3 separate regions of the Homo sapiens genome follow, and regions 1 and 2 are each linked to region 3. The links come from fine-mapping of genetic effects on gene expression. A gene starts in region 3. Each other region holds a variant in brackets. All regions are shown on one strand. Distances are from middle to middle.

What was found. PIP is the estimated chance that this variant, and not a neighbour inherited with it, causes the effect.
Region 1: its variant is the best candidate, but not a certain one, in a credible set for the expression of SZT2 in whole blood (TOPMed, PIP 0.67).
Region 2: its variant is the best candidate, but not a certain one, in a credible set for the expression of SZT2 in esophagus muscle (GTEx, PIP 0.62).

The regions. Positions count from the first base shown.
Region 1 is chr1:43,408,537-43,418,528 of GRCh38, reverse strand. SZT2 (SZT2 subunit of KICSTOR complex) reads right to left here. Exons shown (of 72, transcript NM_001365999.1): 5 at 3,316-3,447; 6 at 2,428-2,569; 7 at 1,888-1,994. Among named protein-coding and RNA genes, the nearest start is that of SZT2, 24 kb to the right of the region's middle. The variant A/G (reference allele first, on the strand shown) is at 5,295.
Region 2 is chr1:43,310,046-43,320,037 of GRCh38, reverse strand. TIE1 (tyrosine kinase with immunoglobulin like and EGF like domains 1) reads right to left here. Exons shown (of 23, transcript NM_005424.5): 10 at 8,209-8,367; 11 at 7,907-8,044; 12 at 7,437-7,733; 13 at 6,613-6,903; 14 at 6,070-6,260; 15 at 2,629-2,839; 16 at 2,364-2,474; 17 at 1,966-2,156; 18 at 690-803; 19 at 509-579. Among named protein-coding and RNA genes, the nearest start is that of TIE1, 14 kb to the right of the region's middle. The variant G/A (reference allele first, on the strand shown) is at 4,846.
Region 3 is chr1:43,385,372-43,395,363 of GRCh38, reverse strand. It overlaps SZT2 (SZT2 subunit of KICSTOR complex), which reads right to left and starts at 5,465. Exons shown (of 72, transcript NM_001365999.1): 1 at 5,369-5,465. The coding sequence starts at 5,395. It overlaps MED8 (mediator complex subunit 8), which reads left to right and starts at 5,564. Exons shown (of 7, transcript NM_201542.5): 1 at 5,564-5,605; 2 at 6,936-7,054; 3 at 7,717-7,861; 4 at 8,366-8,506; 5 at 8,694-8,775; 6 at 9,138-9,386. The coding sequence starts at 5,600. MED8-AS1 (MED8 antisense RNA 1) reads right to left here. Exons shown (of 2, transcript XR_001738027.1): 2 at 9,638-9,992. RefSeq lists a silencer at 5,145-5,474 and an enhancer at 6,915-7,054.

The sequences.
Region 1 (9,992 bases), 23 kb before region 3:
CCAACTCTGGCCTCTTCCTTACAGTACTCAGCTTCACCTTTTACTTCAGAGAGAAATCGGAGGCCCTTCGCAGACATCTTCACTTCTTTCTATTTTCAAAGAAAGAAACGACACTTCCCTGCTCCAAAAGAATCCCTCAATCTGTTTCTTAAGACAATGCCCTCCTGTCAATTTAGGGACTTTACTCCACCAGCCTCCTTTTTCCTTCCTTTATTTTCAAACTCTTCTTCACTACAGATCCTTAGAAACATGCTTAAGTCTCTAGCTTTAAAAACAAAACACAACACTCCTTTACCCTGTACTTCCCTCTGGTTACCATTCTCTCTCTTGCTCTGCTGTTTATCTCAACAGCCAAATTTCTTTTGTCAACACTTGTCCCTATTTCCTTCCTTCTATCCACTCTTCAATCCCCTCACCACCTCTTCACTAAAATGGCTCTGAAAAAGATCCCCGTGACCTCCTAATCACCAAATCCAAAGGGCACTTTTCATTCCTCATTTTACTTGATCTTTTTGCTACTTCTCACAGTGTAGTTACCATTGTGAGAAGCAGCAGAAAGATCCAGTAAAATTTTCTTCCAAAAATTCTGACCTTCTCTGACATCACAATCTTCTGGTTCCTGGCTGATTCTTCATTCCTTGCTGGGCCCTCTTCCTATGAAAGACCTTGAACACTGGTGTTCCCCAAAGTTCTTCCAGGACCCTCTTCTGTTCTCAATTACCATCTGTACCCTGATAAATCTTAAATCTCTACCTCTCAAGCAGTGTTTGTCTCCTGAATATCAGGATCTGTGTATTCAACTGCTACCTGCTACAAATAGCAGCCATTTCTTAAGTGATTACGTACAATGCTACATACTTTAAATGCATCTCACCTCCCAGTGAGATAAGTACTTTTACAATCTCCATTTACAAATGAATCTGACCTAGAGGTGAAGTGATGTGCCCAATGTCACACAGTTAGTAAGTGCAGTCAGGATTTAGACCAGCATGCCTAACTCCAAAGGTGATGTTCTTAACTGTCTGTGTTGAACCACAGGCACCTCGAACACAACATACACAAACTTGCATTCATCATCTTATCCTCACTCTACCACAACTGCTTCTCTTCCTTTTGCTCTGCTGCTACCCAGTCATCACTGGAGTCAAAAACTTGGAGACAACTTTAAGCCCGCTTCTCTCTCATCTCCTTACCCCCATCTTGCTAATCATGAAGTCAGGTTGACTCTGCCTCTTCATTTTTCTCAATCCTCTTACCCCTAATTTAAGCCCTGATCCTCTCTCACTGCAATTAGTAGCCTCCCCGACTTCCCCCGTCCTTCACCCAGCAGCAAGAGTGACCTTTATAAAACATAAACCCAACTAATGACTTTCCTTCTATCTATCTGCATCACCCACAGAATCATGCTTAACCTCATTAATAAAGCAGAACCAGATTTTCATGTTCTGGCCTGTGCCTACCCCTTCAGCCTTGTTTCCCATAGCTTTTTACCTCCTTCCCTACAGTCCATCAATCCAAATTAGCTGCAGTCCCTGGCTATGCCTTTTCCCCCTTTGGTTAAGCTAGTTTGAGCGGGGTTTTCTGACCCTTGCACTCAAAACAATAATGACTAATCTACAAGGGGAGGTGGGACTGGAAATGACTGTCAGATTTCAAATTCTGCATTCTTTTTGCTTTAACAGCTATTTCCAAAATCCTAAGGAAAGAGGAAAAAAATAAGAGTCCTCTCCCACGATGCTACCTACCTTCTAGATATGACTCCTTCCCCCCATGTAACTAAGTAATTGACTTTATCTGGGAAATCACTGCCTGTAAGAAAGTAATCAGCCATCCCAACTTTGTGTGAGATATTCCATATCTCTCTCGTCCTTCCTAAAAAGTCCTCACCTGGACAAAGGAACAAGCCACAGTGCCACTGCGAAGCTGGTTCAGCAGTGTCTCACAGACAGCAACATCAGGTACACTGGTCACCCCATCCGTGATCACGATAATCCCTGGAGCAGGAAACACCAGATCAGACCTGGAGACACTGGCCAGACCAAACTCACAGGGAGGCACCCAACTGACAGGGTCCTGAACGGCTCAGTGTCTTCCCACCAATGTCGGCAGTTTCATAAACTGTGAAGTTTTATAAACTTCAAACACCTTTCCTTCTCCCTTACCCTCCTGCTTCTTCCTCTTGAATGCCAGATCATAACCTCCCCTAAGTGATATCCTTGGAGCTCTACTCCTTCTAGGGTCTCTGATGGTTGTCAGAGTCGAGGGTTCCTGATACACACTAATACAGACTTACATTTTGCAAACAAGGAAACAGATCCTCTTCCCTGGGGCCCACTGATTCCCTGGAACTGCTATCTTTGTTAGCAGTCAGCCCCACCCTTCCTGTATCCCTGCTTCCCCAGTCCCACCAATATTCCTTCTACTGACCTGCACTAGAGTTCGAGGGTAGTAACTGCAGTGCCAAGATGCCCTGACGAATCATACTGACCAGCCCAAGATCAGCTGTCACCATGGAGACGCCTACCTTCCGGCCCAGTAGGTCCCCTGAGTCTGGGGACTGGTCTTCTGCCTGCCCCAAGTTACAGAAAAGACAGAATGGGGCAGATGGCATTGCTGCCCCATCCATAGCAAAGCCAGAATTTATAGCCCAGCACTTCTCAGGCCAGACAGGCCGAATCCTGTGAGAACCTCAATTCCCCTACTATGCGGCTGAGTCTTGACTGTGCTTCCTCCCTGTGTGTGCTCAGATACTGAACCTCAGAGGTGAAGGGAGTTCGGCATCAGATGAAGCTTCAGACTGTACTGAAGTAGGGCTTCTCCATCTTTTGCCAAGAAGGGCCCCTTTCCACATTTTTCCATCACTGTTATGAAATATTTTATACCTCAATCAAATTACATGACCAGTCATCAGGCACACAGGACTGCCATTTGCCTGGCTACTTCTGGGGTACCCAAAGTGATGAGACAGGGAAGTCTAGTGGGCCTAGGCAGCTTTATCCCTGATTGTACAAAATGCTAACTAGAGGTCAAAGCCACGCATAATCACCTTCTCAGATCCACTGGAGGAGATCTGGGGCTAAAAAAAAATGCAAACAAATGGATTTCACATTTTTTCCCTGAAAGAATCTGTGTTTTGGGGAGTATATCTGAGTCCTGCTCCAACAGGGAGTGTGTCATGAGCATGCCTATCCTTGTCTCATTTTGCCCCAGCTCTTAGCCCTTTTTTGCCCTATTTGGACTATCCCTCCTCTCTGCCCTCTGTCCTTAGCTGCTCCTCTTTCTAAGTTGCCTCTGCCCACTTTCTCTCTTACATACCTGGCTCTGGGGATCGTACTGCTGCTGCAGCATGGTGGCCACCTTATCCTCAAAGAGGCAGAGCTGCTCATATATCTGCTGCAGGAACACCTCCCGCTGGGAAGGGTCCAAGAGGCAGCCCTGTACCAGCACCTAAGAAGCACATGGGAAAGACTGAGACAGGACGGTCAGGGTGGCACAGACCACTACACTTCTGCTCTGTTTATTCTCCATAGCTCCATCTAGGCGATCCTGACTTCCTACCCAACCAGGGTCTAAGGTATGACTCCACAGCCAATTTCCCCCTTATCCAATCTCCATCAGTCCTCAGCCCAGGTCCCTAGTCATTAGTCATCTTTATCTGGGGTCACAACTTCCCTCTGCTTAGGGTCCTCCACACTGGGCTTCCCCAACCCCCCACATGGGGGCACTATAAGATCTTCTATTAATAGCTTCTTCTACCTTGGCCTACAGGATGTCTTATGAGCTGCCCCTCCTCAGCCCGGCAAAGCCTTTTTTATTCTCATACTTTTTAATGCTTTTTTATTTCTAAGCATACTGACCAGCCCAAGATCAGCTGTCACCATGGAGACTCCTACCTTCTGTACACACAGAGGCTATTCTGGACCTTTTCAATTTTACAAAAATTAGCTGTGCATGGTGGTGGGCACCTGTAATCCCAGCTACTTGGGAGGCAAGAGAATTGCTTAACTGGGACCTGGAAGGCAGAGGTTGCAGTGAGCAGAGATCACGCCACTGCACTCCAGCCTGGGCTACAGAGTGAGACTGTATAAAAAAAAATTTTTTTTTAAAAATTTTTGTGGGTACATAGAAGGTGTATATATTTATGGAGCACATGAGATATTTTGATACAGGAATACAATGTATAACAATTAAATCATGGTAAATGGGGTATCCACCACTTCAAGTTTTTTTTGTTTGTTTGTTTGTTTTTTTGAGACAGAGCCTTGCTCTGTCGCCCAGGCTAGAGTGCAGGTGCGATCTTGGCTCACTGCAACCTCCGCCTCCCGGGTTCAAGCAATTCTTGTGCCTCAGCCTTCCTCAGCTGGGATTACAGGCATGGGCCACCACACCCAGGTAATTTTTGTATTTTTAGTAGAGACGGGGTTTCACCATGTTGGCCAGGCTGGTCTCAAACTCCTGGCCTCAAGTGATCCACCCACCTCAGCCTCCCAAAGTGCTGGGATTACAGGCATGAGTCACCATGCCTACCCACCTCAGGCATTTATCCTATTTTTTGTGTTACAAACAATCCAATTTTACTCTTTTAGTTATTTTTAAATGTACAATAAATTACTGTTGACTGTAGTCAGTCTACTGTGCTATCAAGTACTAGATCTTATTCATTCTTTCTAACTCTATTTTTGTACCCATTAACCATCTCCCCTTCCACCTCCCCCAGCTACCCTTCCCAGCCTTTGGTAACCATCGTTCCACTCTCCATCTTCATTAGTTCAATTGTTTTAATTTTTAGCTCTCACAAATAAATAACATGCCAAGTTTGTCTTTCTGTGCCTGGCTTATTTCACTTAACATAATGTCCTCCAGTTCCATCCATGTTGTTGCAAATGACAGGATCTCATTCTTTTTTATGGCTGAATAGTATTCCATTGTATATATGTACCACATTTTCTTTATCCATTCATCTGTCAATGAACACTCAGGCTGCTTCCAGATCTTGTCTATTGTGAATAGTGCTGTAATAAACATGGGAGTGCAGATATCTCTTCCATATACTGATTTCCTTTCTTTTGGGTATACACCTAGGAGGGAGGATTGCTAGATCATATGGTAGCTCTATTTTCAGTTTTGTTTTGTTTTGTTTTTTGTTTGAGATGGAGTCTTGCTCTGTCACCCAGGCTGGAGTGCAGTGACACTATCTCGGCTCACTGCAATCTCTGCCTCCCAGATTCAAGCAATTCTCTGCCTCAGGCTCCCGAGTAGCTGGGATTACAGGCATCTGCCATCACGCTCAGCTA[A/G]TTTTTGTATTTTTAGTAGAGACAAGGTTTCACCATGTTGGCCAGGCTGGTCTCAAACTCCCACCTCGGCCTCCCAAAGTGCTGGGATTACAGGTATGAGGCACCGTGCCCAGCCTATTTTGTTTTTTGAGGAACCTCCAAACTGTTCTTCATAGTGGTTGTACTAATTTACATTTCTACCAAGAGTGCACAACGTTACCTTTTCTCCACATCCTCACCAGCATGTTATTGCCTGTCTTTTGGATAAAAACCATTTTAACTGGGGTGAAATGATACCTCATTGCAGTTTTCATTTGCATTTCTCTGATGATCAATGATATTGAACACTTTTTCATATACCTGTTTGCCATATGTATGCCTTCTTTTGAGAAATGTCTATTGAGATCTTTTTTAAGATAAAAAAAATCCCATTTTAAAATCAGATTATTGGATTTTTTTTTCTTATAGAGTTGTTTGAGCTCCTTATATATTCTGGTAATTAATCCCTTGTCAGATGGGTGGTTTGCAAATATTTTCTCCCATTCTGTGGTTGTTTCCTCACTTTGTTTATTGTTTCCTTTGCTGTGCAGCTTTTTAACTTGATGTGATCCTATTTGTCCATTTTTGCTTTGCACGCTTGTGCTTGCAGGGTATTATCAATAAATCTTTGAGCCAAGCATAGTGGTTCACATGTGTAATCCCAGCACTTTGGGAGGCCAAGATGGGAAGATCGCTTGAGCCCAGGAGTTAGAGACCAGCTTGGTAGAGACCTCATCTCTACAAAAAAACTAAAAATTAGCTGAGTGGTGAAATGCACCTGTGGTCTCAGCTACTCAGGAGTCTGAGGCAGGAGAATCACTTAAGCCCAAGAGATCAAGGCTGCAGTGAGCTGTGTTCACACCACTGCACTCCAGCCCAGGCAACACAGCGAGACCTTCTATGGAGAACACAGCCAGTACCAGAGTTTATGCAGAGCGTGGGTGAAGCTGTTGATCTCTTTACAATCTGCACAGCCTATTGTGAGTATTTCTGGGCAGGCAGTTCCTCTGCCTGTTTCAGGAGAGGTTTACTGATTTGAGGCTTATATGTTAGGTCTTTGGTTTGGGTCTCATTTTAAGGGTTGTTTGGGGGCTGGGTGGTCGGCCTTACACAGGAAGCGGACAGACAGTGGATGAAGTCGCCGGGTGTGGTGGCTCACGCCTGTAATCCCAGCACTTTGGGAGGCTGAGGCGGGCAAATCATGATGTCAAGAGTTCAAGACCAGCCTGGCCAACATGGTAAAACCCTGTCTCTACTTAAAATACAAAACATTAGCTGGGCGTAGTGGCAGGTGCCTGTAATCCCAGCTACTCGGGAGGCTGAGGCAGGAGAATTGCTTGAACCCGGGAGGCGGAGGTTGCAATGAACCAAGATCATGCCACTGCACTCCACCCGAGGTGACAGAGTGAGACTCTGTCTCAAAAAAAAAAAAAAAAAAAAAAAAAAAGATAGTGGATGAACTTTTCTGCTCTATCTTGTGGGCAGGTGATTTTGCTTTTGTTTTTGTTTTTCATTCTTCCCCCTCCACAAGCCAAAGTCATTTCACTTGGTTTCCACTGTGTGGACAGTGCTGGAGCTCAGCACTTGATGGGGCTGGGTGAGCCCTAGGTTGCAGACATGGCAAAGCAGAGAAACTGTTCTTCTGGTTCCTGCCCAATCTCAAAGGGGCTAAAGCCCTTCCCAGGGAGGAGGGTGTTCAGGAGCCAGACTTTTGGAGAGGAGGCAGTTTCCAGTCTGCTGGGTGACTGTCATTCTGCATGTGTTCCCTGAGCTGGAAAGGGCTGGAAGCTTCATGCATGAACCATGGAGAAGTAGCCATCACCCCTGCCATGGGTAGAGGGCATCCTAACTGGGCCCCCTGGGTCAGGCTAGAGCCAACACTGCCAGCTGCCCCCTCTGGCCTGCTGGCAATGCCACAGGTGCCCAAGAAGATGGGGGATACCTGTGCCAGAAGCCAACCTGGTCTTCCCAAGGGGCAGTGCCCTCCATGAAGACAGAAGTGAGAGAATAAAGTTCCCTGTAGATCCTCTACTTTTGGGTTGTGTTTTTCAAATGCTGACATTTCAGAGGGGATCCTACAGAAACCCAGCTGGCTTCCCCCAAGGACTCCCCCTTTGCTGGGAGTGGATTTCCACATGTGCCTTTGATTTCATATAGATCAGGCTTTACAGTCACCAATTCAGCTGCCAGAGTCCCTGTACTGGGGGTTGGCATTTTCTACAGAAGAGGAATGGCCTCCCTCACCCTGCTCCCCACCCAGGCAGGGCAGCACAGGATCCAGCAACTCAGTGCTATCAAGATCCCCCCCCAACCCCCAATATACCCCACCTCAGAGGCCTTGCCTGGGCAACCTCAAGCCCCCGTTCCTCGCCATACACTGATGCCTGGCAGCTATAGCAAATGACTCATGTTCTTTGTCAAAGGCCTGTAGTGAGATGATTTTGTTTCCTTTGTTTTGTGAGTTTAAAATTGAAATTAGTTATTTCCTTCTGCTTAACAGTATTAAATAGAGCAGGATATTGAGTTAATCTGCTAGATTAGACACAGAAAAGAAATCTTTGCCCAGTCCAGTGTCATGGAGCGTTTCTCCAATGCTTTCTTTTAGTAGTTTCATAGTTTGAGGTCTTAGATTTAAGTCTTTTTTTTTTTTTTTTTTTTTTTTGAGACAGAGTCTTACTCTGTCGGCCAGGCTGGAGTGCAGTGGCGCGATCTTGGCTCACTGCAACCTCTGCTGCCCGGGTTCAAGCGATTCTCCTGCCTCAGCCTCCCGAGTAGCTGAGATTACAGGCACCTGCCACTGCACCCGGCTAGTTTTTTTGTAGTTTTTTAGTAAAGATGGGGTTTCACCATCTTGGCCAGGCTGGTCTTGAACTCCTGACCTCGTGATCCACCTGCCTTGGCCTCCCAAAGTGTTGGGATTACAGGTGTGAGCCACTGCGCCTGGCCAGATTTAAGTCTTTAATCCATTTTGATTTGATTTTTGTGAGATAGGAGTCTAGTTTCATTCTTCTGCATATGAATATCCAGTCTTCCCAGAACCATTTATTGAAGAGACTGTTCTTTCCCCAATGTATGTTCTTGGCATCTGTCAAAAATGAGTTCATTGTAGATATATGGCTTCTGGGTTCTCTATTCTGTTCCATTGGTCTATGTGTCTGTTTTTATGCCAGTACCATGCTGTTTTTGGTTACTATAGCTTTGTAGTATAATCTGAAGTCAGGTAATGTGATTCCTCCAGTTTTGTTTGTTTTGCTCAGAATAGCTTTGGCTATTCTGGGTCTTTTGTGGTTCCATATAAATTTTAGGATTGTTTTCTCTATTTCTATGAAGAATGTCATTGGTATTTTGATAGGAATTGTACTGAATCTGTAGACTGCTTTAGGCAGTGTGGGCATTTTAACAATACTGATTCTTCCAATCCATGAACATGGAATATCATTCCAATTTTTGGAGTCCACTTCAATTTCTCTCATCGATGTTTTATAGTTTTCATTGTAGAGATCTTTCACTTCTTTGGTTAATTCCTAGGTATTTTATTTTAAACTATCGTAAATGGGATTACTTTCTTGATTTCTTCTTCACATTGTCTGCTGCTGACATACAGAAATGCTACTGATTTTCTGTATGTTGATTTTGTATCTTGCAACTTTACTGAATTTGTTTATCAGTTCTAATAGTTTTTTGGTGGAGCCATTAGGTTTTTCCAAATAAAAGATCATATCATCTGCAAACAAGGATAATTTGACTTATTTTCCAGTTTGGATGACCTTTCTTTCTTTCTCTTGTCTGACTATTCTAGGTAGACCTTCACTTTTCTCTCTTTTACGCTCAAAATCCTCTCCTTATCCCCCTAATGAATGCTCCTTCCTTCCCTTTACCCTCAGCAGATAACTCCTGCCCTGTGCCCTCTTCAAAGAGAAAGCAAGTCAGTCAATAGGAACGCCCTGCTTACCCCAAACTGGAGGGTACACTACTCTCTAACTCTCTGAAAGCACCCCCAAAGTCTACTGAAGGTTTACATCTGTGTCTTTGTTCTTCCTTCAAGGTGCTGAAGCAAGGATTCCTCTTCCTTCTCTTTTTCCCTGTAGCTAATCTGTCCATCTAATCTTGAGCCTTTTGTCTCTCTAATATCTTCATTCTTTCTCCATGGGCTCCTTTTCTTCTACTTCAAACATAAATAAGTATCCCCATCCTAAAATTGTATATAGACCCAGCAGTCCCTGCGGTGGCCCTCAGGATCTCACCCCTCTTTCCCCATCACACTCGTACAACCTGCCCCACATGCCCACTTCTCTCGGACCCTGACCCCATGGAACAACTACTTTTTTACTCCCTGTTCCCAACTGGATAAGTGGGTCGGGCGAGCCAGAAAAGGGAAAGTGGGACATTGTCTCACTCTACAGGCCCATGGGAAGGAAAACGAGCAGAACTGGAGCCATAAAAAGGTGAGAAAGATGTTCCTATTCATATTATTTAGAATAATGAAAACTGAGACAACTCAAGTGGCCAAGTAGGGGCTGGCTAAACATATGGTAAGATATGATGAAACAGTAAGTTAACAGGACATTAAAAATCACATTTTCAAAGAATATTTAGTGACACACAAGAATGCCCATACTATATGTTAAAAAAATAAAAAAAAGGCAGGACAGGCTAAGCACAGCAGCTCATGCCTGTAAT
Region 2 (9,992 bases), 75 kb after region 3:
CAAGGCCAAAGGGCTTGGGGCAAGGGGTAGGTTCAGATCAAGATGGACATCCCTGGAGAGACAGGAGGAGTGTGCCAAGAGGGCTGTCTGCAGGGGAGGGGGCACAGAGAGGGAGTCTTGGGGGTCATGCTCTGGTAAGATCCTCAGGTGGGCATGACCTTGCCCTTCAGGGAGGAAGATGAGAGCAATTCCTGAGTGGCCTCTCCATCTACCTCAGGAAGCATCCGCCAGCATTCCCAAACCTCTCCAAGGCATCCCCCGTCACTTACACAAACATAATCCGAAACTACCTTTACCCCAGTCCTATTCCTGAAACACCTTCCAAGACTCCTTCCAGCAAGCCCCACCTTGGCTAGGTACTTTATACCCAAGACACACCTGTGTCACACCTGGAACACAGCCCAGGTCATGCCTTAGACCACCTATGACATTTCTGAGATATGTCTAGGTCAGGCCTGGGTGATTCTTGGGGGCCAAGCCCTCCTGTGCCCTCTCATCTCACACTCACACATCACTCTTGGTGGTATAGACACTGTAGTTCAGGGACTCAATGGCCATCCAGCGCACAGGGAGACGCCCCTAGGAGAGAATGGGTTTGAGGGGCTGAGTGTGGAGGAAGGGCCTGTTTGAGGCTCCTGTGGGGCAGGGCCAGGCACAAGCCCTAAGGGTGAGGGTTGAATGAGACTCACCATCGTCTTCTTCACATAAACCTCCTCTCCCCGAGAAAGGCCGAAGTCTGCAATCTTGGAGGCTAGGTTCTCTCCGACCAGCACATTCCGGGCAGCCAGGTCCCTGTGGATGAACTGTAGGCAGGGTCAGAAGTCAGGAGAGACTGGGGATGAGGGAGCCCAGGACAGTCAGGCCAGTAAGGAGTCAGTCTTCGTGGGTACCCTTGTTACCTTCAATACCCCATACTCCTACCCTCCTGGCTGCAATCTCGTCAGCTGACTCATATCTGAGAAAGATCAGTGTTGGCTCTCACCCGCTCGTTCCTGGGCCCTGACCAAGTTCAGGCTGGATCCCTTTTCCTGAGACAGTGGTGGCCATACTGCACCTTCTCCTCTTTCCATGCTTCTCCCCCTCCCTCTTCCCATCCCCTGGGTTCCAGTTTCTCTCCCTTAGCCCTCCAGCTTCCCCAGAGACCTCTCTCCACCAGCCCCTCCCTCTGCACTGGCCCCTTCCCCTGCCCCTCTGCTTTCAAACATACTCAAAACTTTACTATCTTTAAAATGCTGGCCAGGTGCAGTGGCTCATGCCTGTAATCCCAGCACTTTGGGAGGCTGAGGCGGGTGGATCACTCGAGGACAGGAGTTCGAGACCAGCCTGGCCAGCATGGTGAAACCTCGTCTCTACTAAAAATACAAAAATTAGCTGGGTGTGGTGGTACATGCCTGTAATCCCAGCTACTCAGGAGGCTGAGGCAGGAGAATTGCTTGAACCCAGGAGGCAGAGGTTGTAGTGAGCTGAAATCGCACCACTGCACTCCAGCCTGGGCAAAAAAGTGAGACTCAGTCTCAAAAAAAAAAAAAGATAAAATGCCTTCCCTCAGACTCACACTCCCCTGGACAGTCATCCCCCTGTCCTCTCATTCAGGCCTGAGTTGACTTGGGCTTGGATCTCTGCCCTTCCCCCTCTCCGGCAGATCGCACCAGGCCCATTGCCATTAGGCACCATCTGTGGGGTGACAGCTCACACACAGATGCTGTCTCCAGCCTGGGCCTCTCTCCTGAGTTCCAGGCTAGCATCTAGACCTGCTCACTCAACACCCGCACCCTCCATACTGGAAGTCCCCACCTCCTCCAGACCTGCCCCTTGGCCCTGCCTCCTCGCTGTGCTTGCACCCACCCACACACTTGGGCCAGGAACCTCAATCCCCAGATACAATCAGGGCCGGCTGACTTCTTCCACTGACACCAGCCCAGTGGCTTCCCCCTCTGGCCTCCACCCGCCCCCACTCACACACACCTGCTTCTCACTCAGGTACTGCATGCCATTGGCCGCATCACTGGCGAAACGCAGCAGCTGCCGGGAGCTAAGGGTAGAGGCTGTCCCATGCTCTCGAGCAAAAGCTGGGTCAGTCTCTAGGACCCGGCTTTTCCGCAGAAAATCTAGCAGGTTCCCGTAGGGGGCATATTCAATAGCGATATACAAGTAACCTGAGAGGCAAAGAGACAGACAGTGGTGATTTAGACACAGGCAACCTAGGGTGGGAGCAGGCACCCGATGGTAACAGACAGGGATGAAGGAGGATCAAGGGTGGTGCACAGGTCACCAGCAGCCCCTGGCAAGCTACTCATGTGGTGGAGGTGATGGCTGAGGATGGGGGTTTGGAAGAAGGGGTAGGTGATGAGCTGGGGGCTCACCTCGGTTCTTACAGGCCCCCAGGAGGTTGATGATGTTGGGGTGATGCCCCAATTTGCACAGAACTTCCAGTTCTCCCGCAAAGTCACGATGGTCATTTTCAGAGGCATACTCTGTGTAAAGAATCCAATATTATTTTGCCAGAAATAACTCTGGAGAAAGGGCTGGCAAGGGCTGGGGTCAATTGCTGGAGGAAGCCAGGTGGGGCCTGGGATTTGTGGGACAAAGGAGAGCATCAGGGCTGGGCCAGGGGTCGCCCCAGTGGACCTTTCAGCATTTTGATGGCTGCGTTCATCTTCAGCCCGTCCTTCTTGATCATGGCCCGGATGACCTGGCCGAAGTTCCCCTCCCCGATGAGGTCCTCAAAGGTGATGTCCTCCCACTCTAGCACTGGGTAGCTCAGGGGCTCGGGCTGCAGTTTTGGCCGCCGGGTAAGTGTCAAGGTCCCTGAGCTGAACTGCAGGATGGTCTCCTCGCCCTTCACAGGATGAGACAAGAGGGCAGACGGTCCACGCAAGAGTCAAAGGGGGCGGAAGGAGGCACAGACAGGCACACGAGGAGGTTTCAGTGTCAGACAAGTGGGCAGAGACCCAGATGGAGGGCACCCTGGTGGTCAGCCAGGGACAGACAGGCAGACAGAGGACATAACTGAGACAGAATCATAGGTAACAGAGCCACAGGTAGGCTGCTGGGTGGACAGATGTCCAAGGAGAGAAATGCAGAGGCTGCAGCCAGGGGATCTAGTGTACGGGACTCTGGAAGGCAGAACCAGGGCTTGTGGGTAAAGTTGCTAGAAGCCACAATGTGAGTCAATGGAAGGAGGATATTTCTAACATTTAAAACAGAAAAGGATCGGAATGAGCTTCCTATGACTGTGCTAATCCTACAACCAGGCTTTTTGTTGTTGTTGTTGTTGGGGGTCACCAGGGAAGCTCTGGAGAAGATTCCAGCCTTAGGGAGTAGGCCAGGGGACATTTATTGAGCACCTACTACATGCTCAGCCCTGAGCTGCTGGGAGCCAGTGGAGGGGTTTTCTCCACAGTAGCAGAAGCAGAGATTACCCTGTCCACACACTTGGCTTTTCTCCATAGCTCTAAAATCAGGCCAGGACCTGAAAATAGCAAGACTATAACAAAGAGGAATGTCCAATTTCCTAACTCAGTAGGAGGAGGCCATCTGGGTGGGGCTGATGGTGGGAAAAGGAAATAAGTGAACAGGACCAAAGAAACTGCCAATATGAGAACTGGAAGCAGGGTTAAGACAGACCTTCTGGTGGGGCTTCCTAAGTGCACTGAAGTCCAGCTTGATGGGCAAGGGCTGAGGACCTGGGGCCCAGGGATTTGCAAGAAGCACTGGTGCTGACGGCACATAGCAAATGCACGTGATGTTCTTGGGCAGCACCATATGTAGGTGCATCATGTATAGGTCCATACACACATGCAGGCCTGAAGGTGCACAGGCATAGGGACACGTGCATCTGGGACACACGCATTTAAACATGTGGCACTCACAGGGGATGCACGTGTGCACTCATACATGGAGCACACACATTTGTGCACACACGTTTCCTATCCATATGCAGGCACATGTACCAGGGATATATCTTTTTGTTTGTTTTGAGACAAGGTCTCGCTCTGTTGCCCAGGCGGAAGGGCAATGGCACGATCTCAGCTCATTGTTACCTCGAGCTTTTGGGCACAGGCAATCCTCCCACCTCAGCCTCCCGAGTAGTTGGGACCACAGGTGCACACCTCCACGCCCATCTAATTTTCATATTTTCTTTTATTGTAGAGATGGGGTTTTGCCATGTTGCCCAGGCTAGGGGGATATATCTTGATATAGAGTATGACACCATGTATGTTAAGGACTGCTTTCCCACCTCCTGCCCTCGACATCTGTACCCATTACCCTCCCCCACCACAGCAGTGAGGGCTTTCTGTGTGCACTGACCTCAGAGGAAGAGCCAACACAGCTTGGAACAAAGAAGCCAATTGAATCTCTGAATGGATTTTTTTTTTTGAGATGGAGTCTCACTCACTCTGTCATCCAGGCTGGAGTGCAGTGGCGTGATATTGGCTCACTGCAACCTCTGCCATCCGGGTTCAAGCAGTTCTCCTGCCTCAGCCTCCCTAGTAGCTGGGATTACAGGCTCCTGCCACTGTGCCTGGCTAATTTTTGTAGCTTTAGTAGAGATGGGGTTTCACCAACTGGGCAGGCTGGTCTTGAACTCCTGACCTCATGATCCACCCGCCTCAGCCTCCCAAAGTGCTGGGATTACAGGCATGAGCCACCACGCCCGGCCTCTGAATGGATTTTTCAAAGGCATAGCAGAGACACTAGGCTTTCTATCACAAGGATCAGCCCTTGAGAGAGAAGAGGGTTTTCTTTCTTTTTTTATTTTTTATTTGAAATGCCAAAGCTTAGCTCTAAATATCAAGAGTCCAGGCCTGGAAGGCCAAGGACAGAGTTCAGATCCTAAGTGAC[G/A]ACAATGAAGAAGCCCTCAGAGGAGACAGGACCTGCGGATGGGCGGCTAGAATGTGACAGGATAAAGTGACAGTGGGTGCCCTCCCACACCCCACCTCTAAGCAGGGGCCTGAGGGACAGAAGGGTGTGGGCTACAGGAGGACAGACAACTCGGGCAGGATTACAGGGAAGCCAGGAGGAGTGGAGGTTTGTGCTTCCTCTTTCAAGGAGCAGGCCAGCACAATTCTGGAGTGGTAGAAACAGTTGTCTAAGTGGGAAGGGGTTGTGGCAGCGGTCTGAGGGCCACAGAATATGCCTCCTTCCATAAGGTATAAGGAAGCCCCTACAGTTCTTTAGTTCTGTTTCTTTTTCTTTTTTAATTTTTTGAGACAGGGTCTTGCTCTATTGCCCAGGCTGGAGTGCAGTGGCAACATCTCGGCTCACTGCAACCTCCGCCTCCCGGGTTTAAGCAATTCTCCTGCCTCAGCCTCCCGAGTAGCTGGGATTACAGGCATGCACCACCACGCCTGGCTAATTTTTGTATTTTTAGTAGAGACAAGGTTTCACCATGTTGGCCAGGCTGGTCTCAAACTCCTGACCTCAGGCGATCCACCCGCCTCAGCCTCCCAAAATGCTAGGATTACAGGTGCAAGTCACTGTGCCCAGCCCCTTTCTTAAGTCTCCAAAAGGAGGCCCTGGGATTTGCAAGAATGAAGGTTAGGATGAGGAGCTCACAGCATGACTGGCCTACTGGCAGGTGGCCACAGCAGGGCTAAGAACATCAGCCAAAGATGTGTGCAGACAGAGGCTGGCTCCCGAGCCCAGGAAGGCCTGCAAGGACAAAAGCCAGCATGAACCCCAAGTGCCCTTCCATTTGATCACCTTGCTATCTAGGCCTAGATAACCGCTAGGGAGAAATAAAAGAGGGGAGAGGAAAATCTCCAATTGACGGAGCCCAAAACTGGAATGTCCATTGTGAAATATGGTCATCACGGAATTCTTTTGAAATGGGAATATTAAATATTTCACCACTAATATAAATGGGCTCATGAGCTGAATTCAGTTTTAGAGAAATAAAGAAAATTATATTTTGTACCCTTGAACATTGTTGAGTGTAATCTTATACCTGCAACATAAACACACACACACACACACACACAAGGTGTACAAGGTATTGTGTGTACACAGGTAGAAACATAAACACGGGCTGCAAGCATGCACCCAGGGGCGGGGCGGGTCACTGACCGAGCCTGACTGGTAGGTGAAGGTGCGTCTCCGATGCAGGCAGCTTCTGCGGATGCACACCAGGGTTAAAAGGGCAGCCAGGATGGTGAGGCAGGTGGCAGACACGGAGCCCACCACCGCCAGGATCAGCTGCTGATCCAGGCCCTCTTCAGCTGCCCGGCTCTCTTGGACTGGGCCCTCAGCCTGCAGCCCTGGACACAGTGAGAGGGGCAGATTGTGGGGACACCTGGGTCAGGGAACCCAGAGGCCACCATGGGGTTACACAGAGGGAGAGGTGAAAGATCCCAGTGCCAGGACTGTCAGGAAATCACTTGGGCCACATGAAGGAAGGGATGAGGGGTGTCAGAGGGGCGACATGATTTTCCCAGCCCTGGGACAGTGGATCATGAGAATGGAAGGCTGAGTCCCCAGGACTGGGGCTGACTCTTTGTCAGGAGGGGCCTGGGATGCCCTAGCTCCACAGTAGGGGGTGATGTGGAAGGAGAGCGTGCTGAGCTCTCCCCGCTCAGAGCCCGGGGGGTCCTGTGGGCCCTGCCCTCTCACCGTTGCCCAGGGTGGACTCTTCTACTGTGTTGCTCCAGTCCCCGAGCCCCTGAATGCTGGCCCGCATGCGGAAGAGGTAGCGCGTGCTGGCGTTGAGGCCACGGATGATGGTGCTTGTCTCCTCAGGCCTGTCCACGTCTATCCACAGTGGGTCTCCTGCACCCCCAGCCACCTGCACCTCCACAACGTACTTGGATATTGGCCCAGGCAGAGCCTCCGGGTGCTTCCATGTCAGCTGGATCTCGGAGTCTGAGAGGGCCTGGGCGTGGAGGTGTCGGGGGGCTGGAGGCCCTGGGGAGATGGTGGGGGAAGGCAAGGCTCAGATAGGACCGGGCTATGTAGCTGTGGGGCTGGACACATCTGCTCTAGCTGTGCTCCCTCCTCTGTGGGTCCAAGCACAGGGGCCACCCTGCCAACTTCCTCCTCCCCACCAGACTGAATTCCTCTCCATTCCCCCAGGCCACTTTCACCCTCAAGCTTCTGCTTCTCCTTGTACTTCTTGTATCCCAAGTCCTCTCCACATCCGCCCATGCCCTGTGTTCCGCAAGTCTCATGCCCTCCCATGACCCTGGTTCTCGCCATGAACCCTGACCTCCCCATGCTCTCCCCACATGCTCCTGGTGATCTGTGTCCTCCTGGTACCCTGGATCTTCCCCAAGTCCCATGTCCCCGCTGGGGTCACGTCTGCCTAATACCCTATGTGTGTCCTGTGTCCTCTCCATGTCCATTAATCTCCTACAGCCTCCCGTGTCTCCTAGGTCTCATGTGTCCCTGTGTCCCACGTCCTCCCCCAACCCCCAGCTATCCTTGCGCCTTGCACATACCACTGGGGGGCAGAAGCACGTGTGCAGGGGGCGAGGCCGGGCCCAGGAGGGTGCAGTGGTAGAGCTGCACATCCAGCTGGTAGTGGGTGCCAGGCGTGAGTCCCGTCAGGAGGGCAGTGCGGGCCTGGGGGGATGAGACGTTCTCCCGCCGCTCCTGCCCCCGTGTCCCGTCCCACAGGCGCAGCAGGAAACCGTCGCCCACCAGTGGCCCGGGCACCAAGGGCAAGGACCAGCTCACTCGCAGCCGGTCAGTGCCTTCCACATGCCAGCCCTCCAACCACGGCTGCAACAAAGGCTCTGGGGCCAGAGGTCAGGGGTCAGAACTGTCCAGTAGGTACTTGGGGCTGGACAGGACAATGATCCCCAGTGAACAAGGAAGAACAACCTCCAGTGGGAAAGGCAGGGGTCCCTGGGGTCGACGGGAAAGTAACCCTTGGGGGGACAGGAAGGGATGACTCTTGGCCTCTCACCAGGACAGTCTGTGGTCATGAGGGTGGGAGGCCCCCAGGCCCCCTCTCCTCCTTCCCCTGGCCGGCTCAGCTGCACACGAACACTGTATCCTGTCTTTGGCCTCAGGTTCATTAACGTCACGTTCTCACTGGGGTCCACTGGGCGTGGGGTGTAAAGCACACATTATTCAGCCCCCACCTCTTCTAGAAGCTGCCATGCTCCCTTCAGCCCCCTCGCACCATTTGCCCTCCCTCTCCTGCTCACTGTATCCCTTCACTATTACCCAACACCTCTGTCCTGCCCCAGCTCTCTCCCTACTCACCCACAATGGTCGACCAGTCCATGGTACTGTCCTGGGGCCGGTAGTGCAGGCGGACAGTGGAGATGGGTCCATCCCCAGAGAACGAGACCAGCGGGGAGACCACAAGCTGGCGGCTCTGCTTGGTCAGGAGCCGAGGTGCAGCCAGGGGCACGGGGGGCACTGCCAGGAGACTCAGGGTAAGGCATGGGCACACAGCCTATCCAGTCCACTTCTGCATCTTTGTTTCAAGCTGGGGACCCTCTGGGCTTGAGGGACACCAAGTTCAACAGATGACCATAGTGGCCAGGGCCCAGGGAGGACAGAGTTCAGGCCCCTGGGTAGCTTGGGGCACAAGGATTAAGCAATAAAGGCATGAGGGTGTCCCAAAAGATGGTAGATGAGGAAGTGACATGGCCAGACATGGTTTGGGGGTGCACTCTTCCCATGCAGTGTGGGGGTAGACAGAAGGGGCCGAAACCCAGGTCAGGGAGACTACCTGGGCATCATCCTGCTCTCTGCCCCTGCCCTCATTCACCACTCTCTTATTAAAAAAAAAAAATGGCACTGGCACTGAAGCACCTGCTCCCCGCCACACGCTTCATAGCATGACCTCTAATTCTCACAGCCACCTTTCTGTCAGGGCACATTACCCTGCATTATGAAAACACTGAGACTCAGAGACACCGAATAACTTGCCTAAGGACACACAACTAGAAGGAGATACAGCCATGTGTTGAACTAGGTCTGTCTGCGCAGGCCGCCTCAGATCTATCCATTCTACTCCAAAACAGCCTTCTTGTTCCTGCCCCACTTCCTCACCCCATGATCGCTGCTCCTATTCTGGCCTCAACTTTTTCTCTCCAGATTATTGCATTAGTGCTTTTAACAGGTTCCCTTGACTCTTACAAATGTTTACCAGATTGGCTTTTTGAGAGGAAAGGAAGGAAGGAAAGAGGGAGGGAGCGAGGGAGGAAAAGGATGCCGCGCTGTAAGCTGAGGGAGTGTCAGGCAGCAATGAGCATGTCAGGAGGGCAGTGCTGATTTGCGGGGAGATGAAGGTCCATTTTGGGTGCAGAGAAGCCCTTGGTGCCTTTGGCTCACGCAGGGGATTAGATGTCCAGGAAGTGGCTGGATATAAAATGGGCCTCCGAATCATACAGCAGCTACTTTCCACACCAACTTCAAAACCAGACTTCCAGAGTAGATGCCCCACTTCATGGAGTCCCCACCAAATGATCTGGAGTCAGAAGAGGGGTCCTGGCTGCAGATCATATGTGAGAGCTGCCAGAGAACTATCAAAATCTAGGGACTAGGTGACATTTTAAATAATAACAATAATTATCGACATACATTGAGCACACACCCTGTATCGGGCACTGTGCTAAATGCTTAAATACATCATCAAATTTAATCTTTGTAACAACCCCATCAAGTGCTAGCTATCCCCATTTCACAAAGAGAGAAACAAAGTAAGAGAGGTTAAGTAGTTTCCTTAAGGTGATGGGGCAAGGAATTTGTGGAGAGAGGATTCAAGCCCAGGTTGTCTGGCTCCTAAGCCTGGGCACAGTGAGAAGAGAAAGGCGGAAGGTGAGGCTTGATGGCAGAGAGTCATGCATAGTCACGGGATAGGGAGATGGCGAGGACCTGGGAGGCAGAGTGTGGCAACGAGAAAGCAGAAGGTGAGAGAGGGGGCTTACATGGGGTGGCAGGAGCAGAGGGACAGCAGGGTCAGGGGGTGGCAGGGGTGTGAATGGTTAAGACTTAGGGTGCTGGAGAAGCTGGAGAAGGCGAAGGAGGCCTTAGAG
Region 3 (9,992 bases):
ATCATACCACTGCACTCCAGCCTGGATGACAGAGCAAGACCCTGCCCCACTCCCTGACCTCCCCCTCCTCCCAAAAAAGCAAGCAAGTAACAAAGTAACCTGTTCAGGCTAATACCTTAAGAGAAAGTGATGCTGAAGGTTGAGCAAGGTTTGTTAAGTGAGGAGAGAATGGGGGTAAACGAGACAGAGGGCACAGACTATTAGAAAGCTTTCTTCCAATTACCAGTTAGTAGGCCACTAAATTTTACTACTGTACAGCTTCCATTTTTTCCCACCTTTCCTTGAAGGTTATTTTGAATGATGGACTGACTCTCCAAAGGCACAATGAAGTCTAGCTCATCAATCAGTTCTTACAGAATCCACCTTCCTGAAATCAAGAACATTTGCTGAACATTTGCCTAGTCTTCTTGCAACATCCCCCTTTACATATGATCCTTCAAAGTCAACAACTATATTTTCTTTTTCTTTTCTTTTTTTTTTTTTTGAGATGGAGTTTCGCTCTCGTTGCCCAGGCTACAGTGCAATGGCACCATCTCGGCTCACCGCAACCTCCACCTCCTGGATTTAAAGCAATTCTCCTGCCTCAGCCTTCCGAGTAGCTGGGATTACAGGCATGCGCCACCACGCCCGGCTAATTTTGTATTTTTGGTAGAGACGAGGTTTCTCCATGCTGGTGAGGCTGGTCTCAAACTCCCGACATCAGGTGATCCACCCGCCTCAGCCTCCCAAAGTGTTGGGATTACAGGCATGAGCCACCGCGCCCAGCCCAACAACTATATTTTCAAAACATCATTTCTAAGTTCTCTTCACTTTCAAGATGTAATTTATCATAACTAGAAGACTTAATAATTTAAGCAGCTAGAATGGTGTTTTTCAAAGTGGGATCCAAGGACCAGCTGCATGAAAAATCACCTGAAGTGCTTATGAAAATACAGCGTTGAGTCCCAGGCACCACCCCAGACCAACTGAATTAAGAGTTGATGGGCTCCAGACTGGGTGCTGTGGCTCACACCTGTAGTCCCAGCTACTCAGGAGGCTGAGGCACAAGAATTGCTTGAACCTGAGAGGTGGAGGTTGCAGTGAGCCAAGATCACGCCACTGCACTCCAGCCTGGGCGACAGAGCAAGACTCCATCTCAAAAAAAAAAAAAAAAAAAAGAGTTGATGGGCTCCAGAATCTACATTCTAACAAGGTCTCCAAGTGATTCTTCCACATTAACATTTGAGAATCCCTGAATTAGTTCTCAGAGCATCCACACTCACATGGAGCTTCAAGTCCTCATATGAATCCTCCTTGAGTCTGAAGTTCATTACTCTCAGAGTAGTCTGGCAAGGAAGACAAAGTAGAGTTTCGGGGTCAGGGACCTGGATTCAAATCTGATTCTATCATTTGCTATATAGGTGACCTTGGACAAGTTACTTAATTTTTCCAAGCCTCGGTTTCTTTATTGATAGTATGTGGATAAGAATATCTTCATAGGGATGTCGTTGCAATTAAACAGGAGAGGAAGGCTATCATTCTTTGGAATATTTATTGAGGTCTACATACCATTTATACCAAGATGAATAAAACATTACCAGGCACTGTGCTGCATACCATGTATACCAGGAAGAATGAAGCATGGTCCATCTCATTAATTTGTTGCTTTGTCTTTTTGTGCCTGTCCCTTTGTGATTAAGGTCTGATTTGTTCAGCCTTTTCTAACCCTTGTGCTGTCTTTTGTTAACACATTCCCACAAAATAATGTGGATTATTTCCCCTCTTGAACTGGCTAAAATCTTCTTACCACTATACATCAAAGTCCTGAGCCTCTAGCATGGCCTCAAGCTGCATCTTCTCCAGCCTTATCTCTCACCAATCCCCACGCAGTTAAAAGCATGTATTCCAGTGTTAGAGCACTTAGGATCAAATGCTTGCTCTGCTGATTATTAACTATATAGTTTTGGCAGAGACTTACACTCTCTATGCCTCAGTTAGCTCATCTGTGAAACACAGATAATAAAAGTGCTTATTTTCAGATAATTTTTGAGTATCAGATGATACTCAGTAAGCATTCAGTAAGTGCTAGCTATTCTCATTGTCAAACTGCATCCACACAAGGAGTTGCTTCCTCTTAGTTCTCTGAAGGCTCCACTGGGCTCCTTCTCACCTGAAGATCTTCACTATTCCCTTTGCCTGCAATGCTCTCTGCCTCTTCTTTTAGAAAACTTCTACCTATTCTTCAGGCTTCAGCTTAAATGTCATTCTTCTGAGTCTTCCTATTCACAACCCCTTGCCTCCCCATTTCTTAACAAGGTAGGTTGAGAACCACTGTTAAACACCCTAATTCACTCCTTTACAGCACTTATTATCCTAATTCAATCCTTGTTTACTCCATAAAGATAGAGAGCATGTCTGTCTTACACGGCTCTGTATCCACCCTGATACTTAGCACAATTCTGACTCCTACCAGCACTCGTAAAATATTTCAAGTGTGTGATGAATGAATGATTTCCTAAATCTGACTATACCCAATCTTTCTCTCTTGGGATCCTAACAGCCTCTAAAAGTCAATAACTTTATTACACCCAGGGGCAGAACTCTTCAATCTCTTTACCTTCTGATAAAATTTTCAGAAATGCAAATCAGGGAGTTAAAAAATGCTTAACTTAGGCTGGGCACGGTGGCTCACGCCTGTAATCCCAGCACTTTGGGAAGCCGAGGCAGGCGGATCACGAGGACAGGAGATTGAGACTATCTGGCTAACACGGTGAAACCCCGTCTTTACTAAAAACACAAAAAGTTAGCAGGGCATGGTAGCAGGCGCCTGTAGTCCCAGCTACTTGGGAGGCTGAGGCAGGAGAATGGCGTGAACCCGGGAGGCGGAGGTTGCAGTGAGCCAAGATCGCACCACTGCACTCCAGCCTGGGCGACAGAGCGAGACTTCGTCTCAAAAAAAAAAAAAAAAAAGCTTAACTTTTGGCTGAGACTCCCAGGATTGTGTGTCTTGACTTGAAATTACTTTAGATCTGTACTGCTCTATATGGTAAAGACTACTATATGGGGCTACTGAGCACTTACAATGTTGCTAGACCAAGATGGGATGTGCTATCAGTGTAAAATACAACACTAGATTTTAAAGACTTGGTACCAAAAAAAATGTTAAATATCTCACGATGTTTTGTATTTTATTACATTTTGAAAATTTTGGGAGTTTTGGGTTAAATATATAATTACATTTTATTTCATTTGTTTCATTTTTTTTTTTTTTTTTTTTTTTTTTTTTTTTTTTTTTTTTTTTGAGACGGAGTCTCGCTCTGTCGCCCAGGCTGGACTGCAGTGGCACAATCTCAGCTCACTGCAAGCTCCGCCTCCCGGGTTCACGCCATTCTCCTGCCTCAGCCTCCCGAGTAGCTGGGACTACAGGCGCCCGCCACCACGCCCAGCTAATTTTTTGTATTTTTTTTAGTAGAGACAGGGTTTCACCGTTTTAGCCAGGATGGTCTCGATCTCCTGACCTCGTGATCCGCCCGCCTCGGCCTCCCAAAGTGCTGGGATTACAGGCGTGAGCCACCGCGCCCGGCCTTGTTTCATTTTTTTATGTGGCTATCAGAAAATTTAATATTACACATGTGGCTTGCTTTAGATTTCTACAGGACGGTGTTGTCCTAGACTATCTGCCTAAAAGGTATGTTGCATTTCCCCACAACATCCCTCCACCTCCTTTCACTTTAATCTATAATGAAACATCCTCTAAACTGTTTCATAGTTTTTCTTGTGTTAATATTTCTGATTGATCTTGATTGATATTTCTGATGCATGAGCTATTCTACCACCTCTGTGAACATGACTATTTTAAATAAGGCATAGTTTCCTACCACCATATTCAATGTTGGGTCTTACCACACCAAATCCCAGTGAACTGGAGATTTACCATTCTGTGGCTACTTTATTACTTATACCATGAACAATATGGTTAAGAACACAAGGACTGGAGCCTGGCCATCTGTTTTGGAGTCCTGACTCTAATACTTAATAGCTGTGTAACTTTGTTACTTTTTTTTTTTTTTGAGACGGAGTTTCACTCTTGTTGCCCAGGCTGAAGTGCAATGGCATGATCTCAGCTCATCGCAACCTCCACCTCCCGGGTTCAAGCGATTCTCCTGCCTCAGCCTCCCGAGTAGCTGAGATTACAGGCCTGCGCCACCATGCTTGGCTAATTTTGCATTTTCAGTACAGACAGGCTTTCTCCATGTTGGTCAGGCTGGTCTCGAACTCCTCACCTCAGGTGATCTGCCCACCTCGGCCTCCCAGTGTTGGGATTACAGGTGTAAGCCACTGCGCCCGGCTTACTTTGTTACTCTTAATATCTCTGTGCCTCAGTTCCTAAACTAAAAAAAGGAGATGATACAGTGTCCACTTCATAGGGCTGAGGATTAACTGATATTGGTAAAGAGCTTAGAATGGTACTGAGCATGCAGTATGTATGCAGTAATGAATACTATTTCTATCATTATACACATCTCTCACCCTTCCCACCTACTGATATGTTGGCACCTTTCCTGGTGGTGGTGTTTTATCCGAATCTGAGATTTTAAGCTCAGATCTTCTAACTCCAAACTGCTAGTTCCTGGATGAGTGGCATTTGAGTAAGGTACTAAATCTTTCTCATTTTTCAGTTTTCTCCTCTGTGAGAATGCCACCTTCCTTGCACAAGTCTGAATGACACAACATATATAAGGTTCCTTGCATGTTCCTTAGCATTTAACGAATATATCATATCACCTTTCTGGTTTATTACATGTGATTCTCACAACACACTATAAGACAGATATTTTATAAAGAAGGAAACAGGATCCGGGAAGACTCGCCTGAGGTTGCACAGATTAGCTACATGACAGCGCCAATATTGGAACGAGGTCTCAGTCCGACTCAAATGTTTTTTTCATGAAATTAAAGCTGCTTTTCTAAAAGCATGAGCCCTAGAACTAAATAAATTCATGCTGTTTATGGTATTCCAATGCCTAAAGAAATGCAAAAACCAGCAAAGTAAATCTACTGCCGTGTTGCCCATTGAAACTGCAACAGAAAGTCAAAATACAAGTTTTGTTAACACCGCTATAAGTCTTAGAGACGACGACGCGGGTGACATGTCAGTAAACAAAACAAAGCGAACAGTTACTCCTTTAGCTCCCCGAGGAAACTGCGGACCGCGTCCCATACACAGTCCGCAGGGGTACCATAGTCGGGCCTTCCGGGCTGGGCTGGTCCCTGCCGAGGCTACGCAGCCCGGCCACCCCCAGACCTAGAGGAGGCCAACGCCACGCCTGCCCGCCGGACCCTCCCCCTCGGATCTCGGGGCCCAGTGCTGCGCCCGCCCGCCCCTCACCTCCGGCTCCGGGCGCTCCGAGGCCATCACACAGCCCTCCCGCGCCGGCCCGGGCCAGTGAGGGTGTTCCACTCTTGACCCCTGACCTCGCTACCTCGGCACCCAGCAGGAACCGGAAGTTGGTGGGAGGGCCGAGTTCCAGTTTTCTGATTGGTGGACGAAGCCTTCTCGTAGGCGTTTGCTGACTGGAAAACCGGAAGTGAAATCGTGGCAGCCGCCTCGGCCGCCGCAATGCAGGTGAGAGTTGCGTTGGGCGTACTAGCGGCTGGCAAGCTTCGGGTACAGGGACCGAGAGTGGGCTGGCTAAGGAGAATGAAGAGTTGGGACTGAGAAGAGAGGGCAGAACCCACGGCTGATAAGGGAATGTGGGCTGGGGGGCGAGGCTAATTGGAGCGGGAGCGGCGGCGATTAGAGGTGGGGGTGGAGCTTGCCTGACAGGAGACAGTCGGGCTAAATCCGGAGGGAGGAGGCAGCACCTGTTTGCTTGGCGTGGGAAAGGATTAGGTTGTAATACGGGGAGGCTGAGATGCAGTCCAAGGAAGACGGCTCAAGAAGGTGGTGGGTTGGCTCAGGCCCTGTCCTAAGCTGCTGGATGGAGGCTGTTGGTTGCCGATATAGCAGGGGATCTAATTGGAAAGAAGCCCAAGCAGTGAGGGAATTGTGGGCCGCGATGGCTGAAAGCTAAGCAGCTTATAATCAGAGGCCATGGTGGAACCCGGGATCAAGTTTCTGTCAGGCAGGTTTGCAAGACAGTTTTGCATCCCTCTTCCCAGCCTGTGCCCTATAGTTGTTAAGGGTGAAGAAATGGAGTAAAACAGGAGACCACCGATGGGAAGGAAATGCTTTGCAGACCCCCAGCATTTTAATTTGTTTGTCCAGTGCTTAGAAGCATGTGTGGTTTTTGTTTTTCATTTGTCACTTAGTTTCTTGCAGCTGGTAGTCTCAATAAATGTTAATGGGTTGACTGAGCTTGTGAAAGAGGCACGGGAATATTGACACAGAGATAGATGATTGCATATTAATTCAGCAAGGAGAAGGTTGAAACAAAATGATGAGAGCAGATGGAAAGCTGGAGTCGTTGGTTGGGGGAGGGAAAGGGGAGAGCAGGACTGGTGTTCAGAGAAGTCTTCATGAGTAGGCAGATTTCCCAGAGACTGACAAGACAGCCAGGCTCACAGATGCTAGGATGGAGGAAGCTGGAGTGCATGTGCTACAGAGGTGCACATGAGAGAATGATCTCCTGGCATTAGGTCTGTCGAAAATGTCTCAGTGAGGGAGTGTAGGGTGTACCTAACACAGAGAAAAACCAGGCATAGATTAGGAGGTGATGGGGAAAAGGAATCAGTTGGTGGAAGGACTTGGGGTCAGGCAAACAGGTTGGAAGGTCTCAGGGTTGATGCTGTCTATAACCCAAATACCAAAGATAGAAAACAACCTGGCTATCCTATGCCAATGAGATCCTGTGTTACCTGACTGGTGTTGCACACCATCTCCTTGGCTTTCCAGCCCTCCTTTCTATGTGTCATACTCGTTTATCTGGGTGACCAACCTGTTCCTATTGGTGCAGAGAGAGGAGAAGCAGCTTGAGGCATCATTAGATGCACTGCTGAGTCAAGTGGCTGATCTGAAGAACTCTCTGGGGAGTTTCATTTGCAAGTTGGAGAACGAGTATGGCCGGCTGACCTGGTAAGAGTTACCAGGGCAAGCTAGGAAGGGCTTATGGGTGGGGGGGCCTAGCCTCCTGATGAATAGGACATTTCTAATGATGTAACCATTTATCAGTTTGCAAACATCTTTTGATTTGGAAAGAGCTGGGTTTCCTAACATTTAGCAAGTGGATTCCATGGCAAGGAAGTAGAGAAATGCTCAGTTTCCTAACCCAAGTTCTTTCTAGCTTTCAATTCTTACCCTTTGACTTCTCTGGTGAGGAGGTCCTCCCACTACAGCTCTATTCGTGCTGGATCTCTTGCCACAGATGTGGCTGAGTCTTTTAGAGCCAACCTACTCTGAAGTGTGGATCTTATTTCCAGGCTGGAAAGGAGGCTTTTACCCGGTTTCTGAAGTTTTAGTTATAACAGTGTAGCCCTGGTTCCTATTTTGCCACTGTTCCTCACCCCATTCAAACAATGAACTGGGTTTTTTCTACGTCTGTTTCATAAACTGAAACTATGTCCCTCTTTCATAGCCCTGTCATCCCTGTTAGTCTGTTCCCACTTAGGCTAGTCATAGGGCTATGAGACTTTTGGAGGTGAATCCAAGTGTTCCTAGCCTGAAGGAACTAGGACTATTTTACTAAGAACCACCCAGGGAAGGGGTACAACATTCTTACACCTTGTTACCACCACCAGGCCATCTGTCCTGGACAGCTTTGCCTTGCTTTCTGGACAGCTGAACACTCTGAACAAGGTCTTGAAGCATGAAAAAACACCGCTGTTCCGTAACCAGGTCATCATTCCTCTGGTGTTGTCTCCAGACCGAGATGAAGATCTCATGGTAAGAGGAGAAAAAGAATACAACTTGGGAAATTAAGGGGTTTTTTAGGCTTCTTTAGTATTTAGGGAAATTAAGTTATTAGCTGAGAGCCTAGAAATAATTTTGGAGGCCTTGCTTTTTGTTCTTCTGAAGGCGGGAGAGCCACTCCCAAATAGTGCTGTAATAACCTGAGGGGTATGTCACCAAGGCTGATACCTTTCTTCTCCAACATCTGTCTCAAGCCACAAAGTTTGCCCTTTTGTGACTTTGTCTATTCCAGTCTTTGAAGCGTGGCAGACAGTGATAGTTTAATTTGCCCCTAGGTCTGGTAGAGATAGGGATGTGAGAAGACACAAAAAATGAAGGATGGAGTAAAGGAGAGTGTGTCCTAGCAAACTAGATATTATGTCTCAGGTTGTATTTTCCTTGAAAATGCACTGTTTGCCTGTGGATGGGACTTTATGTCAGGCCAGATAGAATCTTCTTGGAGTACAGAGTAGGATCAATAAAATCTGTGTGTTACAGCGGCAGACTGAAGGACGGGTGCCTGTTTTCAGCCATGAGGTAGTCCCTGACCATCTGAGAACCAAGCCTGACCCTGAAGTGGAAGAACAGGAGAAGCAACTGACGACAGATGCTGCCCGCATTGGTGCAGATGCAGCCCAGGTTGGACTGAGTCACTGCCTTGCTGCCCCATCCCCATCCCATCATGAGAAGCTAGGCATTACCATTCCTGTCTAGTAGGGATACATAGTTGGTTGCGCCTAAGTTGCTTCTGGCAGAACCCAAGGAATAAATTTCTCCATATCGTTTCCTAGTTACCCTAATCTCTGCACAAATTTGTGTGTTACAGAAGCAGATCCAGAGCTTGAATAAAATGTGTTCAAACCTTCTGGAGAAAATCAGCAAAGAGGAGCGAGAATCAGAGAGTGGAGGTATGATGGGACTGGTGGCTAAACAGAGAAGGAGAGGTATATAAGATCACTGGAATGGGAATGGTTGTTTTGGAAGTAGTGAAGTTAGGACACAAGGGTGAACTGCTTTGGGGTTTGTATCCATTCTGTTAGCCTTTTGTATTTAAGGCCAGCACTGAAGCAGTGGAGGAAATGGGCAAAGTAAGAAGAGAGAATTCTGAGATAGGCTTGGGGGTCCTCTGGCTCTTTTTCTGGGCTGTGAGGGAGTCTAGATGTTGCTGAATTCAGAACTCCAAACCCTGGCACTCATACTGGTCTTCCAGCTGCCACGTTCAGTCCTGCATCAGAAGCATACTTCAGGATCCCCATTACTTTTTCTTCAGGTCTCCGGCCGAACAAGCAGACCTTTAACCCTACAGACACTAATGCCTTGGTGGCAGCTGTTGCCTTTGGGAAAGGACTATCTAATTGGAGACCTTCAGGCAGCAGTGGTCCTGGCCAGGCAGGCCAGCCAGGAGCTGGGACGATCCTTGCAGGAACCTCAGGATTACAGCAGGTGCAGATGGCAGGAGCTCCAAGCCAGCAGCAGCCAATGCTCAGTGGGGTACAAATGGCTCAGGCAGGTCAACCAGGTAAGGTGGCAGGGGTTGAAATGAAGCTGACTTTGAGCAGGAGTGGGAGGGAATAAGCTAGATTATCTGGGCCTCCAGCATCTCTAGACCTAGAGGTTTTCTCTATTTCTCCTTTTCACTGTGACCCAGGAAATAATTTTCAGAAGTAAAAAAATCTCATCTGAGACTCTGCAACAGGCACCAGAGAGTGAGGAAGAACTTTGAGTAACAGAAACTGCTCCAATTTCTCATCCGCATCTCACATCTCTGTGTCAACTATCCTTCTATCCCATTTATTCTGGTATTAGATATGTTGTCAGTGTCTCTTGTTAGGTAGAGAAATCAGCAGTCAGATCTTAAGACCATTTGGTAGGTGCATCAGGAATTGACACGCAGGCCAGTTTTCCAGTCCTACATGTATTCTTTTCTCTGTATCCTGCCTCTCTTGCTCTTGGCTTCCTGCCTTCTCTCCTACTCATTTTTAGAACAGTCTAGATGCAGGCAGCTAGAAGAGTTATTTCCTCCAAGCTGTCTAGGAAAAGGGACAATTAAAGAGAGATTCTGCACTTATTATGATATAAAAAAAGAAAAACAATGAGAGAACATAGTACTCTTTTACCTGTGACG